Linked DNA regions of Homo sapiens. The protein of the gene in region 1 purifies or fractionates together with the protein of each later gene. This does not show direct contact. Each region holds a gene or a part of one and is shown in the gene's direction. Other genes may lie near its edges.

The links.
Region 2: the proteins of CD19 (region 1) and ANKRD16 purify together in Homo sapiens (affinity purification with mass spectrometry; one large-scale study listed by BioGRID and IntAct). This does not show direct contact.

What each region holds. Positions count from the first base shown.
Region 1 is NC_000016.10:28,937,151-28,939,908, forward strand, and holds the end of CD19 (B-lymphocyte antigen CD19 isoform 2 precursor), read left to right. Parts: intron 1-120; coding exon 121-225; intron 226-304; coding exon 305-373; intron 374-473; coding exon 474-530; intron 531-618; coding exon 619-675; intron 676-1,522; coding exon of another isoform or gene 1,523-1,525; coding exon 1,526-1,618; intron 1,619-1,721; coding exon 1,722-1,813; 3' UTR 1,814-1,828; intron 1,829-1,990; 3' UTR 1,991-2,192; downstream 2,193-2,758. UniProt on the Homo sapiens protein: Functions as a coreceptor for the B-cell antigen receptor complex (BCR) on B-lymphocytes. Decreases the threshold for activation of downstream signaling pathways and for triggering B-cell responses to antigens.
Region 2 is NC_000010.11:5,879,705-5,883,526, reverse strand, and holds part of ANKRD16 (ankyrin repeat domain-containing protein 16), read left to right. Parts: intron 1-359; coding exon 360-521; intron 522-3,150; coding exon 3,151-3,229; intron 3,230-3,822. UniProt on the Homo sapiens protein: Required to prevent the misactivation of serine (Ser) with tRNA(Ala) by promoting the hydrolysis of Ser-mischarged tRNA(Ala), thereby playing a role in translational fidelity.

The sequences.
Region 1 (2,758 bases):
GAGGGAAGGGTCGTTCCCCACATGGAGGGGGTTGGAGCGGTCTGTGGCCCGAATAGTGGACTGGGCCCTGGAGGAGAGGGGGCATGACTCGGTTCCCCATCCCCATCCCCAAACCCCCAGGCCCAGAAGAAGAGGAAGGGGAGGGCTATGAGGAACCTGACAGTGAGGAGGACTCCGAGTTCTATGAGAACGACTCCAACCTTGGGCAGGACCAGCTCTCCCAGGGTAAGGCTGCCCTCCCCCGTGGCCCCCCACCTCTGCGGTGGCCTGTGGACTCCCATGGACACCCCTCCTTCTCCACCAGATGGCAGCGGCTACGAGAACCCTGAGGATGAGCCCCTGGGTCCTGAGGATGAAGACTCCTTCTCCAACGGTAACTTGGGGCCTTTGTGGGACCTCAGAGACTTAGGTGTAATTGCAGCGCTGTGACACTCCTAGAAGGGGTCCCTGGAGTTCTCTCTCTTCTGCCACAGCTGAGTCTTATGAGAACGAGGATGAAGAGCTGACCCAGCCGGTCGCCAGGACAATGGGTGTGTGTGAGGATGGCAACAGTCCAGGGGGGAGGCGGAGGACACCTGGAGGCCAGGAGGAATAGTAACCTCCCTCTTCCCTTTCCAGACTTCCTGAGCCCTCATGGGTCAGCCTGGGACCCCAGCCGGGAAGCAACCTCCCTGGGTGAGAGATGCTTTCAATCAGACTGCCTTGCCCAGCTTGGGTGACCTGGCCTCAGCTCTGACACCAGATCCAACTTTGACCTGACCCTGACCCCAAACCCGAACCCAATCCTGTGACTCCTCTCACCTCAACACTGAGCCCCATCCCCCATCCTGAGCCCCATCCCCCATCCTGACCCCCAATATTTACCCCCTCCCTAACTGTGAATATCAACACCGATCCCAATGCAGTATCAGCCTGGACTTGATCTCCACCTCACCTCAGCCCCAGTGCAGACCTCAACTTGGACCCCAGCTTACTCTGCAGCTTCTTCATGACTCTGACTCCGACTCCCTCCAGTTTCTTCTTTTTCTTTTTCTTTTTTTTGAGACGGAGTCTCCCTCTGTTGCCCAGGCTGGAGTGCAGTTGCCACCTCTGCCTCCTAGGTTCAAGCGATTCTCATGCCTCAGCCTCCTGAGTAGCTGGGATTATAGACGTTTGCCACCACACCTGGCTAATTTTTGTATTTTCAGTAGAGACAGGGTTTCGCCATGTTGGCCAGACTGGTCTCCAACTCCTGGCCTCTAGTGATCTGCCCGCCTTGGCTTCCCAAAGTGCTGGGATTACAGGCATGAGCCACCACGCCCAGCCCAGTTCTGTTCTTGACCCCTTCCTTAGCCATAATCTAACCCATATCTAACCCTGACCCTACAGCTAACTGGGGCCCCAAACTCAATGCTAACCAAATCACCCCTTCCCAGCACAGCATGGGTAATGCTCCTCACCTTCCTCTGCCCCTCAGTCTTCCTCCTTACCGTAGGCTGTACTTCCCATGCCCTAGCCTCCAATTCTCCATCCCCCGCCCAAGCAGGGTCCCAGTCCTATGAGGATATGAGAGGAATCCTGTATGCAGCCCCCCAGCTCCGCTCCATTCGGGGCCAGCCTGGACCCAATCATGAGGAAGGTGGGTGCTTCTGCCGCTGTCCCCTGCTGTCCCCTGGGCTGACTTTGCCTTCCAGCCTACTTCCAGTGCCACCCATGTTCTCCTCCTCCCTGGTCCTATCCAGATGCAGACTCTTATGAGAACATGGATAATCCCGATGGGCCAGACCCAGCCTGGGGAGGAGGGGGCCGCATGGGCACCTGGAGCACCAGGTGATCCTCAGGTGGCCAGGTGAGCTGGGACTGCCCCTAGGGAAAGCGGGGAGGGAGGGAGATAGGCACGGATGGCAGTGGCTGCTGGCTTTCAGGGAGGGAGAGGGAACAGGGTTCCTAGGGCCTGGTGGGCAGGGGGAGGACTGCTGGACCCCTCCCCATCACCGTTTCTTCTGCATAGCCTGGATCTCCTCAAGTCCCCAAGATTCACACCTGACTCTGAAATCTGAAGACCTCGAGCAGATGATGCCAACCTCTGGAGCAATGTTGCTTAGGATGTGTGCATGTGTGTAAGTGTGTGTGTGTGTGTGTGTGTGTATACATGCCAGTGACACTTCCAGTCCCCTTTGTATTCCTTAAATAAACTCAATGAGCTCTTCCAATCCTATGAAGTAGTGCCATTGTGTGGGAAGGAAGGGAAGGAAAGGAAAGGAAGGAAAGGGAAGGGAAGGAAAGGAAGGGAAGGAAAGGCGTCTTGAATCCCATGGAAGAGGGAGGGCTGCCTTCTGCATACAAAGGGCCTTTTCCCGGTGCGGTGGCCCACACTTGTAATCTCAGCACTTTAGGAGGCCAAGCAGGTGGATCATTTGAGGTCAGGAGTTCGAGACCAGCCTGGTCAACCTGGTGAAACCCCGTCTCTACTAAAAATACAAAAATTAGCTGGGTGTGGTGGCGAGCCTGTAGTCCCAGCTACTTGGGAGGCTGAGGTTGGAGAATCACTTGAACCTGGGAGGCAGAGGTTGCAGTGAGTGGAGATGGTGCCATTACACTTCAGCCTGGGCGACAGAGCGAGACTTCGTCTCAACAAAAAATAAAAATAAAAATAAAACAAAGGGCCTTTCCCCTTCCATGGCCTAGCCTTCACCTACTGCCCTCTTTTGCCCGCTGCCCACAGATCCGTCACGATCAGCCCCCTCCCACCATCCAGCTACCCAATTATCATTAATTC
Region 2 (3,822 bases), on another chromosome or scaffold:
GGTCAGGAATTTGAGACCAGCCTAGCCAACATGTTAAAACCCATCTCTACTAAAAATATAAAAATTAGCCAGGTGTGGTGGCACACACCTGAGGCTGAAGCAAGAGACTCGCTTGAACCAAGGAGATGGAGGTTGTAGTGAGCCAAGATTGTGCCACTGCACTCCACCCTGAGCAACAGAGTGAGACTTCGTCTCAAAAAAAAAGAATCCTTTGAAAATCAGACAAAAGCCACATATCCTCTGCCCAGAGAGTTGTGCGTAAACAGCTCAGTTTTGCTGAAGTGCCAGCAGATGCCCAGATCTAAGTTGCCCTGTTTCTTATCTTTGACCTTTGCTCCTTTCTCTCCTCTGCCCACTAGGCTTGCCTTTCAGCAGAAGACAGCCTGGGTGCCCAGGCTCTGCACAGGGCAGCTGTCACAGGGCAGGACGAAGCCATCCGATTCTTGGTCTCTGAACTTGGCGTCGATGTAGATGTGAGAGCCACATCAACCCACCTCACAGCACTTCATTATGCAGCTAAGGTTTGTTACTTCTTATAACGTTGTCCGAGCTTCCCTGAGGCTTGCCTTACTTCTTTGATCAGTAGCTCTGCAGCCTGGTTTCTTTGACCCCATCTCTATGGAAGAAATTGCCCATGATATTCTTCTGAAATGGTCAGGATTCTGAAGCGCTTTATCTCTTTAAATAGAAACCTGACTTGAATTTGTTGCTAGACAAAACTTTAAAAAAAAGCCTTTTACTCCATAAAGTGCCTCCCCCTCACACACAGGTTTTTGTTTTCAGGAATAACGTTATTTGAAGCTATAAATACCCATTGTATGAAATTCCTGGCTCTCTGTTCTTATACTGGATTTCAGAAGTTAAGAACTCTTCAGCCAGGGCAAGAGAATTGCATTTACTAGGCTCTCTGGGGTATATTGAAGATAAGCAAACATTTTCACTGGAAAAGTAGCTGTTTTAAATGCTAGGAGCGTTTTGCATATTATCCTTAACATTATCTATTGGCTTTATGCTTTTACTTATTTTTTGTTTTTTTTTTTTGGTTTGTTTGTTTGTTTTTGTTTTTGTTTTGAGATAAAGTCTTGCTTTTTTGCCCAGGCTGGATTACAGGTGCCTGCCACCATGCCTGGCTAATTTTTGTATTCTTGGTAGAGACGGGGTTTCACCACGTTGGCCAGGTTGGTCTCGAACTTTTGACCTTGTGATCCACCCACCTCGGCCTCCCAAAGTGCTGGGATTACAGGCGTGAGCCACCATGCCCGGCCTACTTGTTTTTCTGATCAATTACATTTTCCTGCCTGATGTCCTGCTTTCGAGCAGCTGGGTAGATACACATGATGTGCTCTGTGGCCGCAGGGTGCTCCCATAGGAAGAGTGAACCTGGAACCTTAACTGTAGTCTCATCACATAGTAGCAGACTAACTGGCTAGACAAAGAGTGTATAAATTATTTTATAGGCCAGGCGCAGTGGCTCACTCCTGTAATCCCAGCACTTTGGGAGGCCAAGGCGGGCGGATCACGGGGTCAAGAGATCGAGACCGGCCAGGCGCAGTGGCTCAAGCCTGTAATCCCAGCACTTTGGGAGGCTGAGGCAGGTGGATCGTGAGGTCAGGAGATCGAGACCATCCTGGCTAACACGGTGAAACCCCGTCTCTACTAAAAATACAAAAAATTAGCCGGGCATGGTGGCAGGTGCCTGTAGTCCCAGCTACTAGGGAGACTGAGGCAGGAGAATGGTGTGAACCTGGGAGGAGGAGCTTGCAGTGAGCCGAGATCGCACCACCGCACTCCAGCCTGGACGACAGAGTGAGACTGTGTCAAAAAAAAAAAAAAAAAATCAAGACCATCCTGGCCAACATGGTGAAACCCTGTCTCTACTAAAAAATACAAAAAAATTAGCTGGGGGTGGTGACACATGCCACTAGTCCCAGCTACTCAGGAGGCTGAGGCAGAAGGATCGCTTGAACCCGGGAGGTGGAGGTTGCAGTGAGCCAAGATCATGCCACTGCACCCCAGCCAAGCAACAGAGTGAGACTACATCTCAAATATATATATATATATATATATATATATATATATATATATATAAATAATATTTTTATTTTATAAAATATTTATTATAATAATTCCTACTAGCTGTAATAGGAATTCCCATTTATGAGCGGTTATGATCTTTTCTAGTTTATCTCTCCCCTAAAGATTTCAACAAAGAGTATATTTGCTTGGGAAATTTTAGAGTTTTGGGTTCTGTATAAATCACAAGATTTGTACTGCTCACAATGATGGAAACTAACTGCATTGGGTCAGTAATTTGGCTCACAGAGTTGATCATCTATATTCTAATAATTAAATGTCACCAAAATATTTATTTAATGATTTATATTAGAATTGAGAATGATACAATATCTTACTTTAGATATGAAAATTTGGCTGGGCGCAGTGGCTCACACCTGTAATCCCAACACTTTGGGAGGCTGAGACAGGAGGATCCCTTGAGCCCAGAAGTTTGTGATCAGTCTGGACAACATAGTGAGACCTTGTCTCTACAAAAAAAAAAAAAAGAATAAATTAGGGAAAAAAAGATGAAAATTCACTTTTAGCAGTCGACTGTTTTAGAAAAGGTGCCTAATATATGTTAGAGTCTGTGTTTAAAGTGTGAAAGGAAAATAAAAACGTAAGACCCCCAACTCACTCTGCCAAAAGAAAAAAAATTAAGCTGAAAGCTGAGTCATGCAGAAAGCTGCCTTTCCTTTTGTTCCTAAGCAGATAGCTACAGATAAAGGGTTAAATATTTCCACAGGTAGCTACTTTATATTCACCTTATCTTATGTAAAGTGCCAATTTACTGAGTGGAAAGAGATATTTAATGTATCATTGCCTAATCCCCCCCCTGCTCCTTTTATCCTGCAATGTGGATTCAGTAATGTGACCATACCCTCCTCCTCTTCACTCCAGCCCTCTTTTCCCCTTTAAATATTGAAGCCCTCAAAATCATCTTTGGAGAGAGACACAGACCTGTCTCTCAGGTATGTCCTTAACCTTGGCAAAATAAACTTCTAAATTGATTGAGACCTGTCTCAGATACTTTTTGGTTTGCAAAAGGTTTTCTTTTATCCTCATCACAGTGATAACAAATTTGTTTCAATTCAGGAAGGACATACAAGTACAATTCAGACTCTCTTATCCTTGGGAGCTGACATCAATTCTAAAGATGAAAAAAATCGATCAGGTACCGTTTAATTTTATATATGCCTTGGAAATTAGTAAACTGAGTATAACCAATACACTTTTATATTTAAAACAATGATTTTAATATTCTTCCTTTTTTTTTTTTTTTTTTTTTTTTTTTTTAGTGGTGGTGGTGTTGAGACAAGAGTTTCCCTCTGTTGCCCAGGCTGGAGTGCAGTGGCACGCCATCTCAGCTCTCTGCAACATCCACCTCCTGGCTCAAGTGATTCTCATGTCTCAGCCTCCCAAGTAGCTGGAATTACAGGCATGCACCACCATGCCTGGCTAATTTTTGTATTTTTAGTACAGATGGGGTTTCCCTATGTTGGCCAGGCTGGTCTTGAACTCCTGACCTCAAACAATCTACCTGCCTTGGCCTCCCAAAGTGCTGGGATTACAGGCATGAGCCACTGTGACCAGCCTTAATGTTATTCTTCTAATAGCTCAGCTACTTTTCCTTAAAATATCTTTTTCTCTGCAAAGCCTTCATATAATTGTTATTATAACAGTGATGATGACTGCCACTCATTACAACTGCTGTTGTTAATCTTTGTTGTTATTTTAAACCATAACAATATATGCATCATAAAAGCA